Linked DNA regions of Homo sapiens: region 1 is linked to region 2. The links come from fine-mapping of genetic effects on gene expression. A gene starts in region 2. The other region holds a variant in brackets. All regions are shown on one strand. Distances are from middle to middle.

Region 1 (16,128 bases), 58 kb after region 2:
CGGCGCTGGTGAGACCCGCGAGGTTTGTCGTGCGACCGTTGCTGCAGGTGGTCCAGGCTTGGGACCTTGACGCGAGGCGCTGGGTCCGGGCGCTGCGGCGGAGCCCAGTGAAAGTGGTGTTTCCTTCCGGAGAGGTGGTGGAACAGAAGCGCGCTCCTGGGAAGCAGCCCCGCAAGGCACCATCTGAGGCCAGTGCCCAGGAGCAACGAGAGAAACAACCGCTCGAGGAGTCCGCATCCCGCGCTCCCAGCACCTGGGAAGAGTCTGGGCTTCGCTACGATAAAGCTTATCCCGGGGACAGGAGGCTGAGGTGATGTGGTTCTTGAGCCTGTCGAATGTTCTCGTTTCCCTTCCCGTCGCACAGCGGAACCTTAACCTCCTTCCGATGGAGGACTTCTTCCAGTACAGCCCGCTGGTTTTTGTATTATGCACAGAGGGCCGAATAAGCGTCTTTGGAATTAGCTTCTGTTTCTCCTTAGCTCTTTGTTGTTGTTTTTGTTTCACCATGTTAGCCAGGCTGATCTGGAACTCCTGACCTCAGGTGATCCGCCCGCCTCGGCCTCCCAATGTGCTGGGATTACAGGCGTGAGCCACCGCGCCCGGCCCTCTCCGTAGCTCTTTATTTCTGTTACAACTAAGCGTGTCTCAGTAACAAGGATGTTGATAGTTACCTGTTTTTTTTTTTTATTTCCATCTACAGCAGTGTAATGACAATAGTAAAGTCCAGGCCATTTCGGGAAAAACAAGGGAAGATCCTGCTGGAAGGTCGCAGGCTCATTTCAGACGCTCTCAAGGCTGGAGCTGTGCCAAAAATGTTCTTCTTTAGCCGTCTAGAATACCTAAAGGAGTTGCCAGTCGATAAGCTGAAAGGTGTCAGCCTCATTAAGGTGAAATTTGAGGATATCAAGGATTGGTCCGACCTCGTAACGCCACAAGGAATAATGGGTTAGTGATTACCCAGTGTATCTTTTTTTTTTTTTGTCTTGTTCTGTCACCCAGGCTGGAGTGCAATGGCGCGATCTCGGCCCACTGCAACCTCCGCCTCTCGGGTTCAAGGGATTCTCTTGCCTCAGCCTCCGCAGTAGCTGGGATTACAGGCGTCTGCCACCATGCCCGGGTGATTTTTGTATTTTTAGTAGAGGTGGGGTTTCACCATGTTGGCCAGGCTGACGTCGAACTTGTGACCTCAGGTGATCCTCCTGCCTCGGCCTCCCAAAGTGCTGGGATTACAGGCGTGAGCCACCATGCCTGGCCTTACACAGTGTATCTTAAGGTGTGGAGACCTAGGATTAATTTCTCATACTTGTCTTAGGACAGCAGCATTGAAATGAAATTCAAAATGTTACAATTAGAAAAATATAATTCTCAAACCTGTGTATCTTAGAGTATTTTCAATGGAAATTGAAACCCGTTTTTCACTATCATTTGTGTTGTGGCTCTTTATGGTCTCTAGGAAGAACCACTATTCCTCAAACCTTCTATTTTTTAGATTACTTCTTCAACTTTCTATGTCAGATTAAAAATTAAGAAAGCGTTTACTGAAAGATTGAGCCCTTCATTTTTGCAAAACCTCTGCCAATGTGGTGATAACTGTCAATAAACTGCTTATTCCAGAAGCAGATCTAAGAAGCGAGGTACAAGCCACAATTTACTGCCCCGTTTAGCCCAATAAACAGAGAACCTTGTCTTCTAGTCTGTTCCTTCATTTGGCTGAATCTGACTTAACCTTATGTAACTCCGATGTTGATTAGCAGTTACAAAGTCTTTGGTCTAAATATGAGAAGATAAGTTTTTCATACGTTTTTGACATGGGAGTTTTAAGATATGAAAACTGAATCCTTGAACTGCTGAGAGAGGAGATTCTGGGGAACCATCTCTTGTCTCTGTAACCCAGTGAGTCACAGGGATCTGTGCCTCTGCACTCAGAGCTCTTAGATCCTAGGATGGGGACTTGGATTACTAAAGTACCTAGAATTACTCATGCTAAGTAACCATATTCTCACTAGCTACAGCCCTCTAATCCACACGCCATGCTTCAGTGAAAGTGTTATTCATTTTTACCGTGCTTGTCACTTGGGGCAGGTGTGCTCACAGTGGCCAGCCCATCTTGAACTTGTGCTTGTCACTTGGGGCAGGTGTGCTCACAGTGGCCAGCCCATCTTGAACTTGTGCTTGTCACTTGGGGCAGGTGTGCTTACAGTGGCCAACCCATCTTGAACTTCATCATCATACCTGCTTTCATCATTTCCTGGCTTATCCTTATGTTACTATATTTTAGATTTGAGGGCAGGGAATAAGGGAGAAATGGATAGGAACTGGCAGCACCTGTCAGGCTTTAGACAGACACTCCCCAGAATCCAGCGACATAAGTAGGGCCTCCGTATAGTGGGTTCTCATCACCACAGACATCCAAGTAGAAGTAAAGGACTTCTAAGGTCCTCAGCCCTACTGAATGGCTTTTGGCCATCTGTGACTCCGAAGTGGAGGCTCTCTCACAGCACACAGACGCCTAATACCCTTCCATTGCCTTCAGTGGTGGATAGGCTTTTTACCTGCACCATCTTTTAGAAAGAATCCTAAATCTTTGATTGTATCATGTTTCAGTACAAGTACTATTTCATTCATCTCCTGACTTCAGTCAGTAGCCCATTTATTGTAGCAATCATATACGACAAAATACTAGTAAGATTCAAAAAAACTGTACAGTCCCTTGGGAGCAGACTACAAAGGGATTGAATATTTGATAATTATACATAAAGAGTTTAGGGTAGTGCTTGGCTTAAAAAAAAAAGCTTACTAAAAGGTTATCATTATCACCTCTACCAGTAAACATGGTGATTCAAAAAGAAACTTGTGGATATGTGATACACCCATGTGAATAACTTCATCTATACCACAGCAATTTCATGTACTCAAAGCCATTTTTAATATTGTTATTAGCCTTTTTCCAATTTTTCTCTTTTCCCATAAATTCTTTCCATAAAACTTTAGAGATTAATAATGTAGAGATTATATAATGTAGATTATTATATAATGTATATATAATTTTATCATGTAGAGATCATTAAATAAGGAGAGAATTTTCCACTAAGAAGGCCACTTAGGGTTTTCATTTTCCCAGATAGTCCCAGACCCCATTTTACTCCTTTGTATTAGACTGAGGACAGAGCGGTCGCCAGTAAGTGGCTGTACCCATTCTAAAGCTCCCAGGCTTCTGGACCTCCAGCGTGAGGCCTTGGAAGTGACTCAAGCGTTCACTGCACCTACAGCCCCTTCGTTTTGCAGAGTATGTCCCTAAGACAGTGCTTCTGAGCCAGCGTATTTGAAAAAGGGGTTGTTACTTTGATGCATTCAAGTTTTGAAATTCATATTCTTTTTCCTAGGAATGTAGTTTGAATTTTAAAATGAGTGATAAAGGAAAGATAAATCAGTATAGCAGGCTAATAATTGTTTTTTAAATATTTAAGCCTATAAACTATTTTTTAAAAGCCTACCTGGTAGGAAGATGGGCACAGGTTGTAGAAACAAGACAGTTAAAGGAGCACAGGAATTCACTGAAGAAGATCGCAGTCAGTCAGTAAGGTGTTTAGCTTCTCTAGTAATCAGAGAAAAGGCAAGTTAAAATAATGGCATGCTGTTTTTTCTATCACATTGGGACAAATGGAAACAAATGATAGACCCGCTTTTAAGAAGGGTTTGAGCTGGAAAACAGGTTTTGTTTTGTTTTGTTTTTTGTTTTTGAGATAGTGTCTCTGTTGCCCAGGCCGGAATGCAGTGGCGCGATCTTGCCTCACTGCAACCTCCACCTCCTGGGTTCAAGCAATTCTCTTGCCTCAGCCTCCTGAGTAGCTGGGATTACAGGCATGCGCCACCATGCCTGGCTAATTTTTGTTTTTTGTTTGTTTGTTTGAGACGAAGTCTCGATCTGTCGCCCAGGCGGGAGTGTAGTGGCGTGATCTCCGCTCATTGCAAGGTCCGCCTCCCGGGTTCACACCATTCTCCTGCCTCAGCCTCCCGAGTAGCTGGGACTACAGGCGCCCGTCACCACGCCCGGCTAATTTTTTTGTTATTTTTAGTAGAGACAGGGTTTCACCGTATTAGCCAGGATGATCTTGATCTCCTAACCTCATGATCCGCCCACCTCAGCCTCCCAACATGCTGGGATTACAGGCATGAGCTACCGTGCCTGGCCTAATTTTTGTATTTTTATTAGAGACGGGGTTTCACCATGTTGTTCAGGCTGGTCTCAAACTCCTGACCTTGTGATCCGCCCACCTCAGCCTCCCAAAGTGCTGGGATTATAGGCATGAGCCACTGCGCCCAGCCGAAAACAGGTATTTATGAGTTCCTGATGTGAATAAACTGAAAGAGCCTGTGTGAACGTTAATAGTGCACGCACATCATTTGTCCATTTCACTCACAGGTATTTATGCTAGAGAAATTTTTAGACACATGGACAGACAGTCCTACAGGGATACCCATTGCAGCAGCATTTGTAACAGGGAAAAATTCAAATAATTTAACAGTCCATAGGGGAAGAGCTAAATGAACTGTGGTACATTCATACTACAAAATAGAGGCTGGGCATGGTGGCTCACAACTGTAATCCCAGCACTTTGGGAGGCCGAGGAGGGTGGATCACCTGAGGTCAGGAGTTCGAGACCAGCCTGGCCAACATGGCAAAATCCCGTCTCTATTAAAAATACAAAAAATTAGCCGGGTGTGGTTGCGGGTGCCTGTAATCCCAGCTACTTGGGAGGCTGAGAGGCAGGAGAATTGCTTAAACCCGGGAGGCAGAGGTTGCAGTGAGCCAGCATTACACCATTGTACTCCAGCCTGGGCAACAGAGTGAGAGAGTGGGACTCTGTCTCAAAAAAAAATAGCCTACAGCAGTTAAAGGAAAAAAGTAGCTTCAAACATATTGACATGGTAAGTTCAAGATATATTGTTGCGTAAATAAGTCGATTACAGAATAATACAGAGTATGACACGGAATGTAAAACACATTTACATATGGACAGGTGTGCATATATATAGGTAGATGCATAGAACAAGTTCTAAAAGGATACACTCCAAAACAGAACAGTTGAGGGGGAGGAGAGTGGTACTGGTAGAATTTTATGTTGTTTGAATTTTGCCAATCAGAATGTATTCGTGGTTTTTTTTTTCCTTTTTTTTCTTTTTGAGAGGGAGTCTCACTGTGTCGCCCAGGCTGGAGTGCAGTGGCGTGATCTTGGCTCACCACAACCTCCACCTCCCAGATTCAAGCGATTCTCCTGCCTCAGCCTCCCAGGTAGCTGGGACTAGAGGCATGCGCCACCACGCCTGGCTAATCTTTGTGTTTTTAGTAGAGACGAGGTTTTGCCACGTTGGCCAGGCTGGTCTCGGACTCCTGACCTCAGGTGATCCACCCGCCTTGGCCTCCCGAAGTGTTGGGATTACAGGCATGAGCCAGTACACCTGGCCTGTATTCCTGTATTTTTATGTAACTAAGACCATATCAAGATTGATAAGTAAATGAAAAGTCAGACTATTCCCCGTGCCCACACCAGGCAAGTAAACCACCTGTTTTGTTTCCTCAGGGATTTTTGCCAAGCCTGACCATGTTAAGATGACATATCCAAAGACTCAGCTTCAGCATTCACTGCCTTTATTATTGATTTGTGACAATCTCCGTGACCCTGGGAACCTGGGGACAATTCTGAGATCTGCAGCTGGGGCAGGCTGCAGCAAAGTGTTACTCACCAAAGGTAAGGACATCAAAGGCCAGGCATAGTGGCTCACACTCGTAATCCAGCCCTTTGGGAGGCCGAGGCAGGAGGGTCACTTGAGCCCAGGAGTTCAGGACCATCCTGGGCAACATAGTGAGACCTCATCTCTACAAAAAAAACTACAATTAGCTGGGTGTGGTGGGGTGTGCCTGTACTCAGTCCCAGCAACTTGGGAGGCTGAGGTGGGAGGATTGCTTGAGCCTGGGATGTCAAAGCTCATCACATGTCAAGTGAGCTCATCACTGCACTCCAGCCTGGGCGACAGAGTGAGACTCCCTCTCAAAAAAATAATAAACCAGGTGGATTAGTTGGTCTGGTCTTTTTTTTTTTTTTTTTTTTTATTAAAGAGATGGGGTCTCACTATGTTGCCCAGGCTGGTGTTGAACTGGCTCTGACTCAAGCAGTCCTCCTGCCTCAGTCTCCCAAAGTGCTGGAATTATAGGCATGAACAACTATGCCCAGCCAAGTCAATCACTGTTAGGTGAGCTATGGCTCTGGGCAGGCAGACATGCATTGGATCTTGGGTCTGCCTTCACTAGCTGTGGTCCCTGAGCAGTAGCTGGAATGACAGGCATGAATAACCACGCCCAGCCAAGTCGACCATTGTTAGGTGAGCTAGGGCTCTGGGCAGGCAGACACGGCTTTGGATGGGTCTGCCTTCACTAGCTGTGGTCCCTGAGCAGTAGTCCCTGAAGTGTCAGCTTCCTCGTTGGTGAACTGGGAGGAATAACAGAATCTCCCTGGTCACTGTGAGGATTAAGTGAGATGATGCACAGAAGTTACTTCATACCTTACCTGCCTCACGAGTAATTCAGTCAATGTTGATTCTCTTTTTTAAAAATTATGTTTTTTGTAGAGACGGGGTCTTGCTGTGTTGCCCAGGCTAATCTGGAACTCCTAAGCTCAAGGGATCCTCCTGCCTCGGCCTGTCAAAGTGCTGAGATTATAGGCATTAGCCGCCATACCCAGCCATGTTTATTATCTTTTAAAATTATCATGAAACCTGCTAGGCTGTTAGAGAACTTCACATCGATTATGGAAAAGAAATAGATGCCAATTTTAACACTTGGTTTCTGGTTCTTTATGTAATGATATTGAGTTCCCAAATTGCTGAGTATATGAGCCACTCCTGAGTCTTGACTTCTGAATCCTATGAAAGGAATGACGTCAGCAGCTCTGAATCCTAATGTCATTGTGATCCGTTTCCCTTAGATTCCCTTAGCCTCAGCGTGGGTCACATGCCCCGCACACAAATTCGCCTCATTACATTTCTGTCTCTTCTCATCAGAAATAGGGATTAATAGGCTTGGCTCTAAACAGACTTTCCTCACAGTTGGAGCACGCCTAAAATGTCTCTTACACCTTGGGAGGTGGAGGGGACAGAGAGTACCATTCATCAGAAACACCCCAGCCACCATTAAAAGTAAACTAATAGTGGCACCCGTTGTTGAGACTTGCCTAAATTGCTGCTCGCAGCTCTTTCTCAGTCACGCCTTGCTAGAATACGTTTCTGTGCCAGTGTGAGAGCTACGTGCTGGGGTTCTGTGATCAGTACCCGCTTACTCGCCCCATTATTTAGTGCTCTGATAGCTGTTGTGGGATTTGGAAATAAATCTAAATAATCCAAGCATTGTGGTTTTCACATTGATACTGATGGCTGGGGTGTAAGAAATAGGGAAAGAAGGTAGGAAATACTTGGTGTGGTGCCCAGTATCCAGGACATGAGGATGACGGGAGGAGTCTCGCCTTTCCCCTTTCCCTTCTCCCCTCCAGGCAGAGGGGTCAGCCTCGGCCGCTCCTCTCACACGCCTGGGCCTATCTCTGGTTTCCTGCAGGGAGAGGGAAAGCCCGTGGCTGGGGGTGCAGGCGCTGTTACATCCTCTGTGTCTTATTCTCCGTTTAAAATCTGGTTTGCCTGGTTCGTCTATCCCGAGGTTTGACAAATGAACTTCTAAAATAACTCGTCAGGAGAAGACTTGCGCTAACAAGCTGTGCGGGGGAGGGTGGGAGGCCATGCAGTCACTGCGAGGCCCCACCCTCGGCCACTCTCCCAGCCCGCCCGTGGTGAGGAGCCGCCCCTGGGAAAGGCCAGGCGTCGCAGGCTGCTGCCGGGGTTGCCTCTTGCCTCATTGCCTCATCTCTAGAGTGTTCCCTGCTCCGGTGCAGACTGAACGTTGAAGCCCAATGGGTCTTGATGAAACTATAGATCTGATTCTGTCACTGCTTTGCTTAAGATCCCTCAATGGCATGATACTGTCTTCTGATAAAATGCCAAACTCCTCAGCTTCCCATAGGAGGCCTCCTCCGTGTTGGCCTGCCCACCTCCCACCTCCTGTGCCACTACAGCCCCAGCGCTGATTGACCGGCTCACTGCCTGTGCCACCACACCCCCACCCGCTGATTGGCTGGCTCACCTCCTGTGCCGCCACAGCGCCACCGCTGATTGGCCGGCTCACCCCCTGTGCCGCCACAGCACCACCAGTGATTGGCAGGCTCACCTGTGCCACCACACCCCCACCCGCTGATTGGCCAGCTCACCTCCTGTGCCACCACACCCCCCCACCCGCTGATTGGCCACCTCAACTGTGCCACCACACCCCCACCGGCTGATTGGCTGGCTCACCTCCTGTGCCGCCACAGCGCCACCGCTGATTGGCCGGCTCACCCCCTGTGCCGCCACAGCACCACCAGTGATTGGCAGGCTCACCTGTGCCACCACACCCCCACCCGCTGATTGGCCAGCTCACCTCCTGTGCCACCACACCCCCCCCCCACCCGCTGATTGGCCACCTCAACTGTGCCACCACACCCCCACCGGCTGATTGGCTGGCTCACCTCCTGTGCCGCCACAGCGCCACCGCTGATTGGCCGGCTCACCATGCTTGCAGTCCTTAGGCTGCGCCACTCTCCCGCTTCCTCTCCTAGCTCTGTCCTCTGCCTGGGCCTTTATCTCAGTGTGGTGGTCTTTTAGATGGTTTTCCTCATCGCCCTGCTTTGTCCGTGGGTTTTCTATGACTGTGTGGGTGCTTCTTTTACATCAGTTACTGATACTGTAGCCATCTGTTTAATACCACCCCACTACACTGTGCGTTCCTTGGGGTTGGGGACTTTCATTATCTTTGCATCTTCTGCGCAGTGTCTGGCACGTGTGAATGGGAGATGTTGAAGGGATGCATAAAATATCTTCAGCACTAGCAGGAGTGACTCCTATAGTCGCTGTGCTGGATGCTGTCAGAGAGAGGCAGAAGGTCCCATCCCTCAAGAAAGCTATCATAGAAGAACTGGTTTATCTCCTGATCCAAAATTGATCAGACTTACTCCACAGTCCCCTGGTCTGGGAAGATTTGTAACATCTTGATTGTTTCCTTTTTATTTTCCAGGCTGTGTGGATGCCTGGGAGCCCAAAGTGCTCCGGGCGGGTATGGGCGCACATTTCCGGATGCCCATTATCAATAATCTGGAATGGGAAACCGTGCCCAATTACCTGCCCCCTGACACTCGGGTCTATGTGGCTGACAACTGTGGCCTTTATGCCCAGGCTGAGATGTCTAATAAAGCTAGTGACCATGGCTGGGTGTGTGATCAACGAGTGATGAAGTTTCACAAGTATGAGGAAGAGGAAGATGTAGAAACCGGAGCCAGTCAAGATTGGCTGCCTCATGTTGAGGTTCAGAGTTACGACTCGGACTGGACAGAGGCGCCGGCAGCTGTGGTGATTGGCGGGGAGACCTACGGCGTGAGCCTGGAGTCCCTGCAGCTGGCCGAGAGCACTGGTGGCAAGAGGCTGCTGATCCCCGTTGTGCCTGGTGTGGACAGCCTCAACTCGGCCATGGCGGCAAGCATCCTGCTTTTCGAAGGGAAAAGACAGCTGCGGGGGAGGGCGGAGGACTTGAGCAGGGACAGGAGTTACCACTGAGGACGCAGAAGTGACTTCTGCTTGAGGACGTCTGCAGCTCCTCCTACACCAGCACACTGGTGGGAGGCTGGCGGAGTCAGTGACTATGGCCCCCACGTTCAGGAGGAAGGTGTGATGCCGTCATACAGTTACAGGAAAAATAAGAACTTCCTCAGAAAGAACAGGTCCGAATTCTTCCTGTCGCGTCACTGATTTTGAGGTTCTTTTTTCTCTTGGTGACAATAGGTGACCCACGTGGCTCTGTGTGTTTTTAAAAATTGTCCACCAAGAAGCACTTTGTGCCCAGAAAGTTCCTGAAGCATCATCCTGGCAGGGAGGCGCCTGCTCCACCAGCTGGTGGGTGTTTGTAATCGCCAAGCACCAGCTATAGGTCACAGCCACATCACTCACAGCTGATCACTGGTTGGTGGAAAATAAACTATGAGCAGCAGATTACGTTAGTAAGTTGTTTTGTGTCGTTGGTGTGTCACAGTACCTGTCACGTTTGGCCTGGTAACGAGGACGTGGCTAAGGGAACACCAGGAAGCTGAGGGCTACGCTCATGGCATCCAGCAGCTCTGCTCTGGGCTCAGATGGTCTGTCTTTGAGATTGTTCAGGGCTTCACTGAGCCACTGTTTATGTATCCATAGAAACGGCTTAATTCAACAGGCCATGTCAGACCTTCTTGGCACCTCTGCAGATACCTTTTTGAGGACTTTGCAGAGA[C/T]GGAAGTCTATGCGGAAAACTGAATTTCAAAATCGGCAGCCTCACCCTGCATGTGTCAGGAAAGTGTCACTGTTTCCTGGTTCCCTGTGTTAGTCCTACTTACGTCTCATCCCCCAATGTTTAGAGGCCAAGGTTCTGAGAATGAACGCCCACAATACAGCGGCAGGACCCTTCTGTTCTCTCAGCCCCTCCAGGGCCCAGGGCAAGCTGGATCTTTACCTACTAGCGGCCAAACCAGGATGTAGCCAGGGTGTCAGGGCAAGTGCTGATGGTCATCAATGTATCTATAAGGAACTGTGGGGATGGGGTGGGTGGGTGGAATATGGGACTCTTAAGCACTGCTGGCCAGGTGCGGTGGCTCACGCCTGTAATCCCAGCACCTCGGGAGGCCGGGCGCAGTGGCTCACGCCTGTAATCCCAGCACCTCGGGAGGCCGGGCGCAGTGGCTCACGCCTGTAATCCCAGCACTTTGGGAGGCCAAGGCGGCGGATCACAAGGTCAGGAGATCGAGACCGTCCTGGCTAACACGGTGAAATCCTGTCTTCACTAAAAAAATACACAAAATTAGCCAGGCGTGGTGGCAGGTGCTACTCGGGAGGCTGAGGCAGGAGAATGGCGTGAACCCGGGAGGCGGAGCTTGCAGTGAGCCGAGATCGCGCCACTGCACGCCAGCCTGGGCGACAGAGCGAGACTCCGTCTCAAAAAAAAAAAAAAAAGCACTGCTTTTGCAGCCACACAGAGTTGGAGTTGAAGACAACACAGGAAGCGTTTCCCCACACCCCTCTGCCCAGCGGCTCCCGTAATGGTTTGGACACTGCTCACTCCAGGGAGGTCAAGTGTGTTGCTGGTGTGCCCAGGAGAAACCTTCTTTCTCTTCTACTCCCCCAACTTCCTAGTCAAACTCCCTCTTCCTAGTAAAACCAAATGACCAAGCATGATTCACGTGCCAAGGGGCAGGTTGGGATTGCTCTCCCCTGGGGGAGGGGTGTTTGCAGGGACAGTGTCCTCCCAGGCTGACATCTGAATATTTGAACATCTGCTCTGGAGCCCCACTGTGGTCTGGGCCTGCCCAGAGCTCCACATGAATGGGCAATGCAAGTGTCCCCCCAACACTGCTCCCAAAGGCTGGTGCAGAGAGGACAGGCGGAAAGGCGGCCTGGAGAATGCAAATCCATCCCACTCCAGTCTCCCCAGACACCTCAGGACAGTGCTCAAGCAGCAGGAGTCACGAAAAGGAAGCTCACATCTTTCCAGCCTAAAACCAATCTCGTGGGATTTGTTCCCCGGGTTATACTCCCACTGACTCGTTACAAAATAACAGTGAAAGAATAAACCATGTATTACCTTGTCCTTGTTTAGAAAAAGCAATGTAAACACTGGAAAGTAATTTTTTTTTTTTTTTTTGAGACGGAATCTCACTCTGTCGCCCAGGCTGGAGTGCAGTGGCGCGATCTCGGCTCACTGCAAGCTCTGCCTCCCGGGTTCCCGCCATTCTCCTGCCTCAGCCTCCCGAGTAGCACCTGCCACCAAGCCTGGCTAATTTTGTGTGTTTTTTTAGTGAAGAAAGGATTTCACCGTGTTAGCCAGGACGGTCTCGATCTCCTGACCTTGTGATCCGCCGCCTTGGCCTCCCAAAGTGCTGGGATTACAGGCGTGAGCCACTGCGCCCGGCTAATTTTTTGTATTTTTAGTAGAGACGGGGTTTCACCATGTTAGCCAGGATGGTCTTGATCTCCTGACCTCGTGATCCACCCGCCTCGGCCTCCCAAAGTGCTGGGATTACAGGCGTGAGCCACAGTGCCCGGCCAACACTGACAAGTAATTCTAAGCCCATTTTATCCTGGGTGTGAGAGGGAAAAGAAATTTACATCCCTTTGCTTTAGAGTCCGTGGCTTATATGCCACGGTGCCTTCAGTTCACTTTATATATTCATGGGTATAATTTAGTAGGGACGAGGGAGGGTGCAGGAGGGAGGCAAATTGTCCTTTCTTCAGTGAATACAGGGGAACAGATGGTTGTTATTTGCTGAGTGATTCTGGAAAATCACTACCTTGAATTCTCAGTTTTGAGTCTGACATTTGTTCTGTCACCATTTCCCCAGTAAACAGGAATAAAAAACGAGCCACATTTGACAAGGAAAACACTGCTTGGCCGAGAGACAAACATTGTCAGGATGTTGGCCACGCTCCCGCGCCTTTGTGTGGTGGCGTAGCTGTCACAGTGGCGTCTGCCAGGAGGTGGCAGGCGACACCTCCAAAACCACCCCAGTGCTGAAGGGCGGGGCTGCGATTTTTTCCTGGATTTAAATCGTTGAAAAGGGAGGAAAAGAGGATGGAGTGAAGTCTCCCTCCACCAGAGAGCATTTTGCAAGCTGTCTGTGCTCCGGGGTGTTAAAGCCGGAGACCCATCCAGATTGTCCCAGACCACCTCAGAAGAAAGAACCCGGAGTACAGGAAGACATGGGAACAAAAACGGAGGCGAAAGAGGACGAACGGGAAATAGCAGGAAAGACCGTCACAACTTTTCCCTGTGACTGCAGCCTCTGAGAAAAGCAACTCTGGGCAAAGCATAGGTGTCCAGATGTGCCTGGAGCTCACGCTGGGTGCCCACCGGCTGGCCCTTCGGTTCCTGCTTCGGGGCAGAGAGCGTTGAAATCACTCTCCCCTCGCCCCAGCCGCTGGCTCCTGGCTGGGAGCCTGGTCATTAAGGTCCAGAGGAGAAACAGACCTCTGGGGACCTGCCGTTCACCTGGGACCTTCCGCTGCTTGCCCCGGGGTTGACAGCAACCCCAGATGTCCGCACCAGCCACGCTGGGCCACACTTAGCCCCACTTTTGCCATTCTACCACGCACAGCCCTCACACACACTCCCCATCCAAGGTTCCAGGGCTCTGGGCTGAAAATCACCAGCTGTACTGCAGGGCCTGGGGCTGCCCTCTTGACCAAGCTACCTCTCCCTCAGGAGCAGAGCTGACAGGCTCACCTGTTTTTAAGAAAACATGTTGCCACCTTAAAAATTCCATGATTGTGTTTCCTCTGTTTTCTTTTTTTTTTTTTAGATGGGGTTTTGCCACGTTGCCTAGGCTAGTCTTGAACTCCCGGCCTCAAGCTATCCTCCTGCTTCAGCCTCGAAAGTGCTGGGATGCCAGGCGTGAGCCCCTGCGCCCGCCATGTTTCCTGTTTTCATCAGTGCAGGGAGTGCACACATGTAATAAGCTAGGAGCCAAGTTAGTGGATGAGCTGGTTTATTGCTCAGGATGACTGAAGTCTCAACTACGGAACCATGTTACATTCGAGCAGCTGAGACAGCAGCTGAAGCCAGGTCCTCCCGAAGCTTCAGGAAGCCTGCTTGATGCTCCACGGCTGAGAGTGACAGAGAATCCAGAATAGCTTATGGATGGGTCAGTTCTCGTCTCACCACACTCCCAATATCCAGCTTCCTGGACTGTTGTGTAGGGAAGAGCCACTTTTTTCAGTTGAAGTCTGAGTTCTTATGGGCCATGACCAAGGCTGCTGCTTCCTCAAAAGGCACGAAGGGGGCCGCGTGCGGTGGCTCACGCCTGTAATCCCAGCACTTTGGGAGGCCAAGGCGGGCGGATCACGAGGTCAGGAGTTTGAGATCAGCCTGGCAAACATGGCGACACCCTGTCTCTACTAAAAATACAAACATTAGCCCGGCGTGGTGGCGTGTGCCTGTAGTCCCAGCTACTTGGGAGGCTGAGACAGGAGACTTGCTTGAATGTGGGAGGCGGAGGTTGCAGTGAGTCAGATCGTGCCACTGCACTCCAGCCTGGGTGACAAAAGTGAAACTCTTGTCTTTAAAAAAAAAAAAAAGAAATGCAGGAAGGGAACAGGGAACAAGGCTGGGGAGGGAGGAGCCGACGGCTGCAGCAAGCTCCGGCCTCAGCCTCCCTTCCCTGCTCCTCTGAGATGCCGAGGGCGGGGCGTACTCACTGCAAGCCTGCCAAGTAGGACCTCCATGTCCTCTGACATTCGAGAGATGGATTTTTTGGCCCTGAGATCACGTCTCCTACTGTGTCGTCATTCTAGCACCTGTGGGTGACTTCCTCATGTGAGTGAGGCATAAGCACCCGGAATCCGGACTGGAGGCCGTCTCTGCCTCTGGATTGCACACTGGCCTACAGACCTGGGGACAGAGTCTTTCACGAGTTGTGTATCGTTTAACAGAAACCCAACAGTTCCACCCAAACCTCCTGACACATTCTCGGGCTTGGGAAGTGTCCCAAAGCACCAAGGGGGTGAGACACACGCCTTGAAAAATGGCAGTAGGCATACTTACCTGTCTTCATGCGCTCACATACGAGGTGTACCTAGAACGCCCTCATGTTATATTCCCAGCACTAATGAAGCTACTGGTCAACAGCTATTTGTTCCCAAAGAATTTTCCCTTGCGCAGCCGCAGCCTGGAGGAAGCAGGGCGTGTGCCCTCGTCTGCTGGCGGCAGCAGTGAGGGGTGTAGCCAAGTGCCCACTTCTCTCATTCAGCTGCTTCGGGGCAAACTGGAAAGATCCTTTGAGCTCACAGCCCCCTGCTCAGTGCTACTCCTGAACCTGCGGGCCTGTGTGCACAGCCACCCACAGCGCGCACAACACATGGGCCTGCCCAGGGCAACGGCACCGTCAACAGCGTGTGCCCTCGCTCAGGGCCCTGCTGGTACTACGCTTCCCAGTGTGCAGGGTTCCCAGACGTGTGTCCTCTCATACATTGCATTTCCTCCCTAAGCTGCACGGGGCAACACCGTGTTAGGTCCCGCGCATCTGCTCCTGGGCCACATCCGGCTCCGTCTGTATTGTTCCTGAATTCAGTTTGCTGTCCTAGAACAAGGCAGCAGGAGGGGAGAACAGCTTTTCAGTGTCTTTAATTAGGCAACAGGAAAAAACAAAGTCTGGCTGAAAATTACTATTTGAAGCTTGGCCGATGCCAACACAGCACTCGCTCCCTGCGTTCTGGTAAGTGATGGCCATTGATTTCAAGGACGTACCAAGGGGCGAAAAGCAAGAGCAGGAAGTCACCTCGCTCTGGAAAAGAAGCTGGTTTTCATCTGCTGTATGTGCTGGTCCCAAACATACCCTTTTCTCTTTTTTTAGTATTTTTTTTCCCAATTAGGAATTCAATGTGGAAAACATACCCTTTTTCTTCAACAGGCTTTTAATGTTGGGAAGACAGGTTAAAAAAAACAACAACAACAGGCTGGCTGTGCCGGCGCACGCCTGGAATCCCAGCACTGTGGGAGGCCAAGGCAGGCAGATCACCTGAGGTCAGGAGTTCGAGACCAGCCTGGCCAACATGGCGAAACCCCGTCTCTACTAAAAATACAAAAATTAGTCAGGCGCGGTGGTGTCGCTTGTAATCTCAGCTACTTGGGAGACTGAGGCAGGAGAATGGCTTGAACCTGTGAGCTGGGATCGTGCCACTGCACTCTAGCCGGGGCGACAGAGCGAGACTCTGTCTCAAAAAAAAAAAAAAAAAAAAACCCTCATCGCTGTTGTGAGGATGAATGGATGGGATCTGGAAGTCACTGTGGTAAACACAAATCTGGGAACCACAGAGTGGCGTTTTCACAGCCGCCCCCAGCCTCCACCTGCAGGGCCTGGTTTTCCTGGCTGCCGGAGGAAGCCCTTGAATATGCCACAGCTGGTGCTGAACCTGCTTCCAATTAGCAACAAGAATCTGAAGGTGGAGCTGCTTGGCGGGGATTATCATGCCACCCACTTC
Region 2 (16,128 bases):
CTAATTTTTGTATCCCAAAGTGCTAGGATTACAGGCGTAAGCCACTGCGCCTGGCCTAATCCTATATTACTTTAATTCTACCAGCACTGTAAAAAAGTGCTTACGTCCTTATATACTTAGGCACAGTGGATATTTTCCGTCTTTTCCATATTCACTGATAAAGTTGTGTGTGTGTGTGTTATTTTGAGAGACAGGGTCTCGCTCTGTCACCCAGGCTGGAGTGCAATGGCAGGATCATGGCTCACTGAAGCCTCCAACTCCTGGGCTCAAGGGATCCTCCCACCTCTGCTTCCCATGTAGCCAGGACTGCAGGCACATGCTACCGCACCTGGATAATTTTTAAATGTTTTTGTAGAGGGTCTTGTTACGCTGCCCAGGCTGGTCTCGAATTCCTGGTCTCAAGTGATCCTCGTGCCTCATCTCCGAAAGCACTGGGATTACAGGCATCGCGCTCGGCCTACTTATAAAGTTTTCAATGGGCCTTTTTATATTTCTTCTGTGTATTTCTAGTTTGTATCATTTGAAAAATTCTTTTGGATCATTTTTTTTTCTTTTTTCTTTTTTCTTTTTTTTTTTTTTGAGGCGGAGTCTCTCTCTGTCCGCCAGGCTGGAGTGCAGCGGCGCGATCTCGGCTCACTGCAAGCTCTGCCTCCCGGGTTCACACCATTCTCCTGCCTCAGCCTCCCGAGTAGCTGAGACGACAGGCGCCCGCCACCTCACCCAGCTAATTTTTTTGTATTTTTAGTAGAGACAGGGTTTCACCGTGTTAGCCAGGATGGTCTCGATCTCCTGACCTCGTGATCCACCCGCCTCGGCCTCCCAAAGTGCTGGCTAATCATTTCTGCGGTTTTCCTTGTCCTTGTTTTCCTCACAAGTGTGACATGCTTGCCACAGACAAAATGTAGTAGGTCTGAAGCCCAGCGTGGTGGCTCATGCCTGTAATCTCAGCATTTGAGGAGGCAAGGTGGGAGGCTCGCTTGAGGCCAGGAGTTTGAGACCAGCCCGGGCAACAGAGTGAGGAACACACCCCCACCTTTGTTCTTCTGACACAGTGTCTCCGTCTGCCACTCAGGCTGGAGTGCCTGGTACAGTCACAGCTCACTACAGGCTCAACCTGAGGTGATCTCGCACCTCAGCCTCCTAAGTGCCTGGGGCTACGGGCACGCAACATCACAACAAGTTTTTTTTTGTTTTTTTTTTTTTTTGTAGAGACGGGATTTCACCACGTTGCCCAGGCTGGTCTGGAACTCCTGGCCTCAAGCGATCCGCCCACCTTGGCCTCCCGAGGTGCTGGATTTACAGGAGTGAGCCACTGTGCCCAGCCAGCCCTTAAATATTTTTGAAACCTGAGTTTAGAAATGTTTGCTTTTAGATAGGTGTGACTATCTGCAAACAAGCCAGATTTTGCATTTTTAGCAAAAGAAACATGTATGTGAAAGTGCTTTGAAAAATACACAGCAATACATAAAAGCAGCACTCCATCATCGGTTCCTTGTGTAAATTACGGTTTTTACCGGCAGGAATCAGAGCGGAGTCTCCCGTGTAGCATGCAGCTGCGGTCGCTGTTTGTAGAAACCATGGGTTTGGGGTGTGGCTGTGCTTCCCGGCCTCACAGTTTGCTCTTGCAAAGAATCTTAAGATAAAACCAAGGAAGCTGCCGTCTGGAGTCGGGCTAAGGCCACCTAGGGAATCTGTAATCCAGCAGGTGCTTGTTGAGAAGTTTAACAGCAGGGGGCTATGCCTTGAGGATCCGGTATAAAGAACAAGAATCCCCTGCCTGTGCCGAGCACACAGTTTAACGTTTTGAAAATAGGATGTCATTTAATTCTCCCAGCCATCCTGGAGGGTAGAGGCAGGAACCGCCATTTTACTGGGGAAGGAGGCAAAGTGTTTTCTCCAGGTCACACAGCTTCCAGGTGGTGGAGCGTGGACTGGAACTCAGGTTCTCGGATCCCAACTCCAATGCGCTATGCAGTGGCTGCCTCCCAGGCAGACGGCCCCTACCGTCAGGGGCATGTGGTCTGCCAGAGAAACGCACACACACATATCAGCTCAGGGCTACACTGATCAGGCAAACAAAGTGAAGGAGAAATGAAGAGCAGGGTGATTGACTTCTTTCTGGCCACACTCAAAGTCCTAAGAGCAAGTCAGCTCATTCTCTGAACCGTATTTCTTCAGACGCAGTGTGGCTTTTGTTGCCAAAGAGAATGAAGTTCCGCAGAAGGCTGTTGTTCTCCTCTTTGGACACCTCCTTCCTTTCTTTCCGTGTCTGACCTTTTCCTCGTGTTCTGTTGTTGTGCCAATCTTTAGATCTTCATCTCTATGTCTATCTTCCTGTATCAAAGTGTATACTGGCGTTGTGTGTGTGTGTGTGTGTGTGTGTGTGTGTGTGTGTGTGTGTGTGTGTTGAGACAGGATCTCACTCTGTTACCCAGGCTGGAGTACAGTGCTGTGATGATGGCCCACTGCAGCCTCAACCTCCCGGGCTCAAGCAATCTTCCCACTTCAGCCTCCCGAGTAGCTGGGACTACAGCCACACGCCACCACACCCGGCTAATTAGTGTATTTTTTTGTTTTACCATGTCGCCCAGGCTGGTCTCTAACTCTCGGGCTCGAGTAATCCTCCGGCCTCAGCCTCCTAAAGTGCTGGGATAATAGGCAGGAGCCAACTCCGGGGCTCAAGTGATCCTCCCGCCTCGGCCTCCTAAAGTGCCGGGATAATAGGCAGGAGCCACCTCCTGGGCTCAAGTGATCCTCCCGCCTCGGCCTCCTAAAGTGCCGGGATAATAGGCAGGAGCCACCTCCTGGGCTCAAGTGATCCTCCCGCCTCGGCCTCCTAAAGTGCCGGGATAATAGGCAGGAGCCAACTCCGGGGCTCAAGTGATCCTCCCGCCTCGGCCTCCTAAAGTGCCGGGATAATAGGCAGGAGCCACCTCCTGGGCTCAAGTGATCCTCCCGCCTCGGCCTCCTAAAGTGCCGGGATAATAGGCAGGAGCCAACTCCGGGGCTCAAGTGATCCTCCCGCCTCGGCCTCCTAAAGTGCCGGGATAATAGGCAGGAGCCACCTCCTGGGCTCAAGTGATCCTCCCGCCTCGGCCTCCTAAAGTGCCGGGATAATAGGCAGGAGCCAACTCCGGGGCTCAAGTGATCCTCCCGCCTCGGCCTCCTAAAGTGCTGGGATAATAGGCAGGAGCCACCGTGCCCACGTGCCCACCCCCTGTGCCGTATCTTTCTATGTCTCTTCCTATTTCTTCATTCTCCTTTTGTCCTTCCTGCCCTCTCTCTGCTTCAATGGTCCCTACTGTGGAAATGAAGTATGGGTCTACACAAAGTAACTTTTACTTCAGAACAGATGTCCATTTTCTCTGTTAGGGTATTTATTTATTTATTTGAGACAGGTTCTTGCTCTGTCGCCCAGACTGCAGTACAGTGGCACAATCTGGGATCATTGCAACCTCTGTCTCCCAGGCTCAAGCAGTCCTCCCATCTCGGCCTCCTGCGTAACTGGGACTACAGTTACTGGGGTGGGTTCCACCCATCTGGCTTTTTTTTTTTTTTTTTTTGAGAGACAGGGTTTTGCCATGTTGTCCAGGCTGGTCTCCAACTCCTGGGCTCAAGTGATCCACCCACCTTGGACGGATCCCAAAGTGCTGGGATTACCGTTGTGAGCTGCTGTGCCCAGGCTGTGTTAGGATTTTTAAAGTGGATGAGCGGACAGAGACCCCTAAGTTCCCTTTTGGTTCGGGAGCTCACTACGTGGAGGCGCTTCACGTGTGATCTCACTTCTTTCTCATGTACATGATTTTCCCAGATAGGAGGAAAAGGTCCTCGATCAAGGGTAGTTGCCCACACATCACATATCTTAATGGCATTCACTTGAGAACTCACAAAGTATTTTACAAGTAAATACGGTATTTTCCATTTAAGGCTGAAGAAACCAGGAAACAGATATGGGGAGAGTCCCTGTGTCCTATTCCTTAATGATAGCGAGTGGGGTCCAGAGGAATGGGGGAGAGGAGATGGAAAGGCAGGCCCACATGCTTTCATGGCAGAAAAATCCCTCCGTAGCCCTTTAGAATGGGGAGCTTTATAAATTCTCTGTTCAAGGGGGCGACAGTCTACATTTGGTAAGTGAGTTTTACGTTGGCATTAAGTAGCCCAAATTTCACTCTGGAAACCCACACAAGCAGTGTAATGACAAACTGGTGAAACCCAGCCCCACAGCCTGGAGTAGTGGAAATTACCCTGGAACAGGTTCTAACCTGAGCCTTGTCCCTTCACAGGGTGGTGAGTCAGCGGCCCATCCTGCACTTCGCTTTCTTCATGTGTAACATGGAAATAACAGGTTTAGCCAACCTCACTGGGTTATTTTGAGACCCAGGTGAGCTACTACACGTGAAAGTGCTTTGAAAATTTGTAAAGTTACATATAAACAGAGAATACTGTTCATGGCAGCATCAGAGCCCATCAATTCACCATACAAATTTATGAGTAAATAATTAGGAACAGTATTCATCAGAAACTATATTGTGAAAGATTATTATTCCCTCCTTGCTTATCAGGCTTGAAGGCAGTATAGTCATCCGGCACATGGAACTAAAGGCAGAAAGTACTGAGTTTGAATCCCAGCTCGCCACCAGCAGTGTGACCTGGGGCGATTTTTAAATTGCTCTGGTCTGAGTCTCATTTTGCTGATACACACAAACACACACACACACACACACACACAGAGTGAGAATAACATCTGTTGTGAGGATTTAATGAGACAATGTAGACAAAACATCTGACATAGGACCTAGCAAACAGTAAGTACTCAACAGGTATGAGCTTTGGAAAGTATGAAACATGTATTGCACCCTCAGAATGTGCCAGCCTCACTTGGGGTACAAAATGAAAAGACACAGTCCTTGTTTCTAGGACCTAACAGTCTGGTGGAGAAACATACAAATGAGAAAACAACAGCCTCGTTACCCAAACCCAAAGGCAGACCTGGAAACCTTCTTAGAGAAGGAAACAGCTGATTCGAGACTTTTGAAGGATGAGGGGAAGTTTGTGTAAACCAGGCCCCGTGTTTTTCATTTGGCCTTACCATTTGCCGACAGGGGTTTGATCGCTTGAAAAGCTAAGGTTCATGTTTCTGCTTGTTAGCTTTATGGTGATTCAACATAAACAGTCTGGTGACTTCACTGAGCATGGTGTTGAAACTGATCTTACTTGCTATTTTCTTTTTTCTTTTTTTTTTTTTTATTTGAGACAGAGTCTTGCTCTGTTGCCCAGGATGGAGTGCAGTGGCACGATCTTGGCTCACTGCAACCTTCGCCTCCCGGGTTCATGCCATTCTCCTGCCTCAGCCTCCCGAGTAGCTGGGACTACAGGCGCCCGCCACCACGCCCGGCTAACTTTTTGTATTTTTAGTAGAGGCCGGGTTTCACCATGTTAGCCAGGATGGTTTCGATCTCCTGACCTCGTGATCCGCCCGCCTCGGCCTCCCAAAGTGCTGGGATGACAGGCATGAGCCACTGCGCCCGGCCTTTACTTGCTATTTTCTATACATGAAACATCGGTTGTTTTGTTTTCAACTCATAAAGATGCCTTACAGCTTCTTGTGTAGGGGAGACTGGTTCCCACCACTCAAAGGTGCCAGCATACTCACTGCCAAGCTGCTGCTCCCTTTAAGGAGGGAAGGCAGGGAGGACTTGTAACCACCTGTCACTCTCTGGAAACACTGGCGCTGGAGGTCACTGTGATAAATGCTTAGGAAAGAGACAGTGGACTGCACAGAGTCGTTTTCCTGGAGAGAATGGAGAGTTCACAGGTAGCTGGTTTTGTCCACAAGCGAATGTGAAAATAAAGAGAGCGTCGCATTTGTCAGATATCTTGGGACCAACCTGAAGTGGCTTTCTCCTTTCACTGAGTATGTCAGCAGTGAATTTGGGAGTTAGAGATGTTGCCCTAAGTGGACGAAGTTTGAGGCTTTTCTTGAGGCTGTCTGCCACCGTCCTGTTGGCTAAGTCCCTTTTCTTAACCACATATAGGAAGATGTTAGAGGCTACATTCATTCCAAAAGGTCACAGCCTAGTAACTGATACTACCACTGAAGGAAAACTATCTTTTAAACCTGAGAAACATCTTCAGACTCCATCATGAATGAATCCAAATTGAAAAAAACAAAAGCTGTGCTCACTCTACACCAGTTCCTACATCACTAACTGCCGTGTTAAAGTAATTTAACTGGCACCTAACAGAAATCATCTGCCACTTTGTAAAAGTCATAGACTCATAAGAATCTAGAGCTGGAAGACCGTTAAAGAGCTAGTGATCCAGCCTCCCTCTCATTTCACGGACCAGCAAATCGTGGCCCAGAGAGCCGAGCCCAGCTGTTCCGAAGTCCTCATACGGGATTTTGGTCAGCATTTTGCATGACGGTGATCTGAGGAGACCCGTCATACCTTTCATTTGTAGTAACATAAATGAACTGTATTTCCCACCCCCTACGTTTGTTAGCTGAGGAAGATACAGACCAAAGCAAAATAAAGCTGGTAGTTCCTAAAGGACAGAAGCCAATGATACTGAAATTCCTGTCTTCATCCATGTGATTGGTGCTTGGCACAAATGAAATGTATTCCAATTCATTCAAGTTTAGACGCCTGTCCCGATAACTGTTTTTTTGTTTGTTTGTTTGTTTGTTTTTTGAGACAGAGTCCTGCTCTGTGGCCCAGGCTGGAGTGCAGTGGCGTGATCTCGGCTCACTGCAACCTCTGCCTCCCAGGTTCAAGCGATTCTCCTGCCTCAGCCTCCAGAGTAGCTGGGACTACAGACAGGCACCACCACACCTGGCTAATTTTGTATTTTTAGTAGAGACGGGGTTTCACCGTGGTGGTCAGGCTGGTCTCGAACTCCTGACGTCAAGTGATCTGCCCGCCTCGGCCTCCCCAAGTGCTGGGGTTACAGGCGCGCCCGACCCCGATACTTTTAAATAACGACACGTTGTGAACAACACCACAGTCCCTACGCCTCTGGATGGTGTCTCCGGATAGATCCAAAGCCGAGAGGCAGTAAGAGCCTGCAGCCTCCACAGTCCGCCTCCTGGTGCAGGTGGAGAGGGGCTGCTGGAGGCCCCCGGACCTCACGCTTCCTGAGGGCCACCCCGGAGCGGCTGCAGCCGCTGGCGGCACCGGGAAAAGCATCTCGGCCGTGCGGGGAGAGGCCACATCCTGAGGCCTCCCACCGAGAAGCACCAGGGCTTGGTGGACGGGGCCCGCGAACCCAGGGCCACACGCCGCCTCCCTCCTTCCTTCCCCGCGGGCCTCGCCCCACCCCGGAGGGGGTTCCTACCTGGCTTCCTCGGCCCCGCGCCCACCCCGCCCCTTCGCCCGGGGCCGGCGAGAAGAGCAGGTCGGGGAGGGGCGCGTCCGCTGACGGAACAGAAGCCGGGAGCCGCGGCCCTTCCCGCCTCCGCCTGGGCCCCGCGGCCGCTCGGGAGGGAGCGGCGGACTCGGAACGCGCGCGCGCCGCGGCCCCGGCCACAGCCGCCGCCTCGGTCCCCGCCTCCGCCCCCGCCCACCCGCCCGCCGGGGACGCCGGGGAACCCTCCGGGCCCAGGGACCGCGAGAGACCCCGCCCCGCCCTATCGCAGCCGCCGGGCCTGGTCACGCGCAGAGCCGCGCCGCGGGATCGGGGCCAGCGCCGGGCGGAGGCGGGACGGGGACGGGGGCGGAGGGTTGAAATCGCGCGGCCGGGCCGGGGCGCGCCGAGCCGAACCCAGCCACGCGGCGCCAGCGAGGCGGCCGGACCCGCAGCCCCGATGCTGCTGACGCTGGCCGGGGGCGCGCTCTTCTTCCCGGGGCTCTTCGCGCTCTGCACCTGGGCGCTGCGCCGCTCCCAGCCCGGATGGAGCCGCACCGACTGCGTGATGATCAGCACCAGGTACCGGCGCCGCCGAGACGCCCCCCGAGGCCCGGGGCGCTGCCCACCGCACCCCACCCGGCCGCGGGGCCCAGGGCGGAAAAGGGGGGCGGCAGGAAGCCCGGGGGCTGCTCCCTCCGCGTCCCGGCGGCCCGAGTTTCCGAAGCCCCTCCGCGTCCTCCCCTGGCGGGAGCGGGGCCGGGGCGGGCGGGAATGGCCGATGAGCCTCCGGAGCCCGCTCCCCACATCTGCCTGCGGCTGGGGAGAGTCAGGCCGAAGGGCCGGGCCGGGCTCCCTGCGGTCCTCGGACCGGACTGAGCGCGCGCGCTGTTCTCTCCGCCCGCGCTAGGCTGGTTTCCTCGGTGCACGCCGTGCTGGCCACCGGCTCGGGGATCGTCATCATTCGCTCCTGCGACGACGTGATCACCGGCAGGTAAGAGCCCGGGCCGGGGCCTTGTTGCAAATGTCACATTTCAGTAGCTCGCAGGCTCTGGCTCTCGCAGCACACGCGCTCAGAAAGCTGACTAATGGGAAAAGCTGGCACCACAATGGGCTCCTTCTTCCTCTCCGGAGTCTTCGGGCACCCCCAGCTTAGGAGAAAGTCCACGGAAATGAGGGAGGACGACAGAGTCGGAGTCTGATTTCAGGTGGTGTGAGCCAGGGATCCAGGTCCTTCATGGAAGAGATAAGCGTGGAAGCATTTACGACTGGGAGTGTGGCTTGATTCTTGCAGTTGGCTTCACTGGGTTCTCACTCTGGAGCATCACTGGCTAACAGACGTCCAGTGTGGTTAGCAGAGCCCCCTCCATGGAAAGGAACCAACCCACCACCCCCTTCCACGCAAACGCCGCTCTTGCTTTTCCTGCAGATTTGCTAAAGGTGATTGAGAGGTTCCCAGCGCTTAGAACACGGACTTGTACGTCTATCAGAGGTCAGTCCAGAGGCAGGTCAGGAAATGTGCACCTATCTGCAGTTCCAGTGAAACAAATCATAAATTAAGACCAGAATAGTCGACTTTGTACAGTAGTTAGACCTGGACAATGGTGGTGCTTTTATTATTTCAAGCCTTTTTTTTCCCCACCGGTCTTGCTGGAATCACACTCACTTTCTCCCAAGTTGAAGGACCACAGTCGGATGTGCAGGAAGTTGAACGGCCTTTCCAGGCCCTGCTCTCCTGTGGGCTCTGCCAAGTCCTGCTTCTCACCTGCTGAGACTGAACTGCGAGGGGCCTGAGCAAGCTGTCCGTCTCACTCTAGCCTGCGGTCTTACCTGGGATCAATCCTGCTGTCATGATTTTTGTGCTTTTCTTCTGCCTTTTTAAAAACAAAACTGGCTATTGGCGATGAATAAGTAGATGCTACGATAGATCAAGTGACATCGATTGTAGACACCAAAGGTTAATATTGGTGTGGCTGGGTACAATTTTTCTTCTTCTTCTTCTTCTTTTTTTTTTAAAGACAGGGTCTCACTATGTTGCCCAGGCTGGTCTTGAACTCCTGGGCTCAAGTCATTTTTCTGCCTCACCCTCACAAAGTGCTGGGATTACAGGCATGAGCCACCACACCCAGCAAATTTTTTACTTTTTTTTTTTCCTGTCGAGACCTCAGGCTGAGGTGCAGTGGCATAATGACAGCTGACTGTAGTCTTGAACTCCAGGGTTCAAGCCACCCGTCTTCCTTAGCCTCCCAAGCTTGGACTACAGGCACACACTACTACACCTGGCTAACTTTTTTTTGTTGTTGTTGGTAGAGACAGGGGTCTCCCTGCGTTGCCCAGGCTGGTCTTGAACTCCTGGGCTCCAACGATCCTCCTGCCTGGGCCTCCCAAAGTGTTGGGATTATAGGCGTGAGCCACTGCACCCAGCCAAAAAAGGCCTTTCAGGGTTCATATACTATATACTGAATATTTTTCTATTATATGCCTTCTCATTTTATGCCTTCACATAGAATGCGATTAGATAGAAGGAGTTAAAAATCCCCCCAAATTATAGGCAGAAGGTGGTATGGGGCCAAGGATTTAGTCAGATTCTTAAAGGATTCAGACACTAAAATGACAAAGTCACAGCTCCAGGTGGTTTTCTCAATTTAAGTACTTAATTCAGATAGTACGTTGTTGTTTTAGACAGGGTCTGGCTCTGTCACCCACGCTGGTCTGAACTCCTGGGCTCAAGCCATTCTCCCACTCAGGCCTCCCAAAGTGCAGGGATCATAGGTGTGAGCCACCGTGCCCAGCCTGTATAGTACCTTTTAACATTTAAAAGGACTCCCCCTCCCCGCCGCCTTTCTTTTTATTGAGATGGAGTCTCACTCTGTCACTCAGACTGGAGTGCAGTGGTGAGGTCTCGGCTCACTGCAACCTCCACCTCCCAGGTTCAAGTGATTCTCCTGCCTCAGCCTCCTGAGTAGCTGAGGTTACAGGCATGTGTCACCACGTCTGGCTAATTTTTGTATATTTAGTAAAGCCATGTTGGCCAGGCTGGTCTTGAACTCCTGACCTCAGGTGATCCATCCGCCTCGGCCTCCCAAAATGCTGGGATTACAGGCATGAGCCACCGTGCCCGGCCGACTTTCCCACATTTAATTATTTAATCTTCACTGCAGTTTTGACAGGTAAGACAGACAAGGATTATCATCTTCATTTTACAAAGAAAGTTAAATCACAGGCTAGTGATAGTGAAGATTATAATCCAGATCTCTTGCTAATAAATCTTCAGAGGATTCTACTCATGAGTCACAATTTCAGATCTCTTCTCTGAATTGGTGAAAACATGAAAACCCTAGGTTCCCTTCAAGGGGAGAGGCCAGTTATATTTCAGCTAAATTTTAGTAGCTGTTTATAGGTATTTTACTTGAAATTGCTTGAAGAAAGCACCTGAGACCATAGATGGGCATTGGAATAAGTATGGCATCTTTTTGGCCAAAAGAAACCTAGCTAGGTCGGGTGCGGTGGCTCCTGCCTGTAATCCCAACACTTTGGGAGGCCGAGGTGGGCGGATCACTTGAGGTCAGGAGCTTGAGACCAGTCTGGCCAACATGGTGAAACCCCCATCGCTACTTAAAAAGAAAAAAAAAAAGAAAATAGCCGGACGTGGCGGCAGGTACCTGTAATCCCAGCTACTCGGGAGGCTGCGGCAGGAGAATCGTTTGAACCCACGAGTCAGAGGTTGCAGTGAGCTGAGATCGCGCCACTACATCCAGCCTGGGCGACAGAGCAAGATTTTGTCTCAAAAACCAAAACCAAAAAAAAAAAAAAAAAAAAGGAACCTGGCTAATGAATTCACCTACAAGTGTGTTATACTTGCCATTACTTGCTTGCCTTATTTGTTTATTCATTATTTACGCCGTGGTAAGTGTGGAGTTGCTCAAGAGCACAAATTCAGATGGCGCCTCCGTAGACTGTATTTCCAGTGTTGCAGTTCAGCGGACTGGCTGCGTCCGAAATCAGAGACAAAGTTAATACAGATTTCAGGGCCCTCGGCTTACAATTTAGAATCTCTGGGGACTGGAGCGCTTAACAAGCACTGCAGGTGATTCTGATGTTCAGGTAGTTTGAGAACCATAAAACGAAATGGTTTTCTACCTAATACGTGGATGCGCATCAAACGTTTGCTGACCATGTGAATGGAATCCTCAAATAGTACATGATTTCAATTTAGATGTTTCTTCACAGAAAACATCTGTGGAATGCTTATCACTGGGAACCACATTGTATGAATTGTAGAGGCTTCCCTTCTAATCTGCTCTAGGACGGTGATCAACTATGATTTCCATTCAGCAAATACTGATTCAGCCCCTTTGGATAAGTAAATGGGAAAACTGTCTTTTGACCTAGCCTCTCTCCTGGTACCTAACCGCTGTAATGTGGCCCTTGAGCTCCAGGCTCATTTCCAGACCTGCTTTTTTTTGTTGTGTTTTGTGTGTTTTTTGAGACGGAGTCTCACTCTTTTGCCCAGGCTGGAGTGCAGTGGCGCGATCTCGGCTCACTGCAACCTCTGCCTCCCAGATTCAATCGATTCTCCTGCCTCAGCCTCCCAAGTAGCTGGGAGTACAGGTGCACACCACCATGCCCAGCTAATTTTTGTATTTTTAGTAGAAACGGGGTTTCACAATGTTGATAAGGCGAGTATCGAACTGCTGACCTTGTGATTCACCTGCCTTGGCCTCCCAAAGTGCTGGGATTACAGGTGTGAGCCACCACGCCCAGCCTCCAGACCTGTTTTTCTTAATGGAATTGAGATTATCTCTAGAATTGCTTTTTGGGTTTTTTTGTTTTTGTTTTTTTTAGATGGAATCTCACTCTGTCGCCCAGGCTGGAGTGCAGTGGCGCAATATCGGCTCACTGCAACCTCCGCCTCCCGGGTTCAAGTGATTCTCCTGCCTCAGCCTCCCAAGTAGCTGGGACTACAGGTGTGCGCCACCACATCTGACTAATTTTTGTATTTTTAGTAGAGACGGGGTTTCGCCATGTTGGCCAGGCTGATCTTGAACTCCTGACCTCAAGTGATCCACCCGCCTCAGCCTCCCAAAGTGCTGAGATTACAGGTGTGAGCCACCGAACCCGGCCAGCTCTAGAATTGTAAAGAAAATGGCCAGGGTTGCCTCCCAGAAACTCCATAGAGTGGGGTTGCATGCAGACAAGAGAAAACTCACAGGTTCCAGGATTTAAGTTAGTAAAACCCCCAACTGTTGAGCAGCTAAGGAGTTAAACTAGAAATGTTGGATTTGTGATTTGGGACACTTTCCAAACCAGCTTCTTGGTGGGGCCGTTGAATCATTTGTATATCTATCTATATCAAAATCAGTTTTATCACAAAATGCCAGAACATCTACTACAAATTAGTAGCTAAGTCAGGCAAGTAGTGACAGCAAGCTGCTTCAACAGGCAGGGCTGAGTGAATGCCTGCTTTTTGCCTTTGACACTCACGAATTGGCCCTGAAACTGAGAGCAAGTGGTCTACTCTCCCTGTTTATCAGTTTCAACATCTTTATTGTAAAGTATTTGGAATAATAATAGCTGATCAAGCACCAAGCTTGGCTGTGAGCCTTCATAATGGATATCCACAATGATTTCACGGGCCATTCATATGCTTTCTTTCAGGCACTGGCTTGCCCGGGAATATGTGTGGTTTCTGATTCCATACATGATCTATGACTCGTACGCCATGTACCTCTGTGAATGGTGCCGAACCAGAGACCAGAACCGTGCGCCCTCCCTCACTCTTCGAAACTTCCTAAGTCGAAACCGCCTCATGATCACACATCATGCGGTCATTCTCTTTGTCCTTGTGCCAGTCGCACAGGTATGGCCTTCCAGGACAGCAGACCAGCAGCTGGGTTGAGCTGGGTGTCTTTTTTTTTTTTTTTTTCTGAGACAGTCTCACTCTGCCGCCCCAGCTGGAGTGCAGTGGTGTGATCTCAGCTCACTGCAACCTCCGCCTCCCGGGTTCAAGCGATTCTCCTGCCTCAGCCTCCTGAGTAGCTGGGATTGCAGGTGCCCACCACCACGCCCGGCTAATGTTTGTATTTTTAGTAGAGATGGGGTTTTGCCATGTTGGCCAGGCTGATTTCAAACTCCTGAACTCAAGTGATCCGCCCGCCTCGGCCTCCCAAAGTTCTGGGATTACAGGCATGAGCCACTGCGCCCGGCCTGAGCTGGATGTCTTGACCGTTACTTAGGAGTCGGGATTGCCCCTCTTTTCTTTGCCACTCATAGGCACCCATTCTCCTTGTGCCTGCTGCTTCAGAGCCACCTCCCCCAGGTGAATAGTGGAGGAACACCATTACACATGAAACGTTCATGATCCTCCTTACCAACATCAACATCAACATACTTTTTCTTTTTTGAGACAGGGTTTCACTCTGTCACCCCGGGTGGAGTGCAGTTGTTGGATCACAGCTCACTGTAGCCTCAAACTACTGGCCTCAAGTGATCCTCCTGCCTCTGCTTCCCAGGAAGCTGGGAACACAGGCACACACTACAACGTCCAGCTAATTCCTGTAATTTTTGTAGAGTTTCTCCATGTTGCCCAGGCTGGTCTCAAACTCTTGGACTCAAGTGATCCTCCTGCCTAGGCCTCCCAAAGTGCTGGGATTACAGGCGCGAGCCACTGCACCCGGCCCCAACATTCTTTTTAACAAACCCCCAGCGCTCTGTGATTCCCTAGCGTTTGTCAGAGGTTCTATCCTTAGTTCAATACAAGATAAAAACAATATAAAATACAAATATAATACAAAGCAACATAACAGTGCCAGAGAGCACTGTGTGGATTATTCTTAGGTCACAAAACACAGATTCTCAAAGCAAATAGCCTCCTACTTTCTCCCCAGATCCATTTCCCCATAAAAGCCCACCCAACAAAGAAAAGCAATGGGAAAGCTGAGGGGAAATTCCTCACTCTTGAGTGCCTGGCCAGGGGAAGGCATGCGTTTTTTTTTTTAATTATTCATTTATTTAGTTATTCATTTTTTTGAGATGGCGTTTTGCTCTTGTTGCCCAGGCTGGAGTGCAATGGCTCACTGCAACCTCTGCCTCCCGGGTTCAAGTGATTCTCCTGCCTCAGCCTTCCAAGCAGCTGGGTTTACAGATGCACGCCACCATGCCTGGCTAATTTTTATATTTTTATTAGAGACGGGGTTTCACCATATTGGTCAGGCTGATTTCAAACTCCTGACCTCAGGTGATCCACCTGCCTCAGCCTCCCAAAGTGCTGGGATTACAGGCGTGAGCCACTGCTCTTGGCCGGCATGTAGTTTTATTTTATTTTTTAAATAAAGAGATGGGGGTCTCCTTATGAGGCCCAGGCTGATCTTGAACTCCTGGGCTCAAGGGATCCTCCCGTCTCAGCCTCCCAAAGTGCTGGGATTATAGGCGTGAGCCACCGCGCCCTGCCAGGCATGTGATTTAAAAGTTCATAGCTTGCTAAATATTAGAAGCTATTAGTCTTATGCTGTAGATGAAGAAACTGGGGCTCTAAGAGTATTCTTATATCTCTCAGTGGTACTAAGTGGCAGAGCTGATATTTTACCATGCTTACTGCTTTCTTGAAAAAAGAGGCCGGGCGAGGTGGCTCATGCCTGTAATCCCAGTCAGAAGTTCGAGACCAGCCTGGCCAACATGGTGAAACCCCATCTCTACTAAAAATACAAAAATTAGCCGGGTGTGATGCTGTACATCTGTAGTTCCAGGTACTCAGGAGCCTGAGGCAGGAGAGTCATTTGAACCCGGGAGGCAGAGGTTGCAGTGAGCTGAGATCACGCCATTGCTCTCCAGCCTGGGCAACAAGAACAAAACTCCGTCTCAAAAAATAAAAATAAAATAAATAAATAAGGGTAACGTGCATTAAATTCTTTAAGAAGTGTCTGGGACCTACCATCTAGGAACCAGAACATCTAGGGTGCTTTGAGACCCTAACATCTAGCACAGGGCCTGGCACATTTTGTTGAACCAAACAGGCTGAGTGTCTTGGCATGACTAAGTTCGATACACAAAAGTAGGCTTGCAGCCTTCCTTCCGGCTGTCATCAAAATTCAGAGCTTGGTGTGGGACGCCGTCATCCTGTCTGAATTTGCCTCTGGATCCTAGGGCTTGGACCATCAAAGTGCTGTTGCCACGGAAGCAGCGGTACAGTAGTCTGCGCTTGCCTATTGAGCGTCCTTTGCCCGTCACAGTTACCCTTTTCAGTAGCCCTCGTTGGAATTTTCCTTCTGGTGGTTTCTTAACCTCCACTTACTTCCCCTTTTCGTTTCGTCATCCGCAGAGGCTCCGGGGAGACCTTGGGGACTTCTTTGTCGGCTGCATCTTCACGGCAGAACTGAGCACTCCGTTTGTGTCGCTGGGCAGGGTTCTGATTCAGGCATGTATGAATGAAATGACAGAGAGTGTGAGGGTTCTGATTCAGGCATGTATGAATGAAATGACAGAGAGAGTGAGGGTTCTGATTCAGGCATGTATGAATGAATGGCAGAGAGAGTGAAGGTTCTGATTCAGGCATGTATGAATGAATGGCAGAGAGAGTGAGGGTTCTGATTCAGGCATGCATGAATGAAATGGCAGAAAGAGTGTGGGAGGGAGTGGATTCTGCTTTTCCTTCGGAGATGGTGGGTGTGGAGAAATCCCTAGTGCCAGGAGAGTGGGATGAGAGATCCTTCAACAGCCTTAAAGGTCAGCTGGTCATCTCAGCCAGTGGGGGTGAAATTGTAGGTTTGATCTAAGTTTGATAGTTTG

Evidence for each region.
Region 1: its variant is fine-mapped to the expression of TLCD3A in thyroid (GTEx, PIP 0.97).

The regions. Positions count from the first base shown.
Region 1 is chr17:782,383-798,510 of GRCh38, forward strand. MRM3 (mitochondrial rRNA methyltransferase 3) reads left to right here. Exons shown (of 4, transcript NM_018146.4): 1 at 1-310; 2 at 701-945; 3 at 5,583-5,750; 4 at 9,152-10,127. The coding sequence ends at 9,687. It also overlaps a transcript of GLOD4 not described here. Among named protein-coding and RNA genes, the nearest start is that of MRM3, 8.1 kb to the left of the region's middle. RefSeq lists enhancers at 1-278, 1-498, 8,487-8,781. The variant C/T (reference allele first, on the strand shown) is at 10,394.
Region 2 is chr17:724,844-740,971 of GRCh38, forward strand. TLCD3A (TLC domain containing 3A) reads left to right here and starts at 7,753. Exons shown (of 5, transcript NM_024792.3): 1 at 7,753-7,926; 2 at 8,255-8,338; 3 at 13,003-13,204; 4 at 15,662-15,757. The coding sequence starts at 7,805. LOC124903893 (a long non-coding RNA gene) reads right to left here and starts at 7,537. Exons shown (of 2, transcript XR_007065572.1): 1 at 7,336-7,537. RefSeq lists an enhancer at 4,966-5,260 and silencers at 7,230-7,709, 7,730-7,999, 8,070-8,169.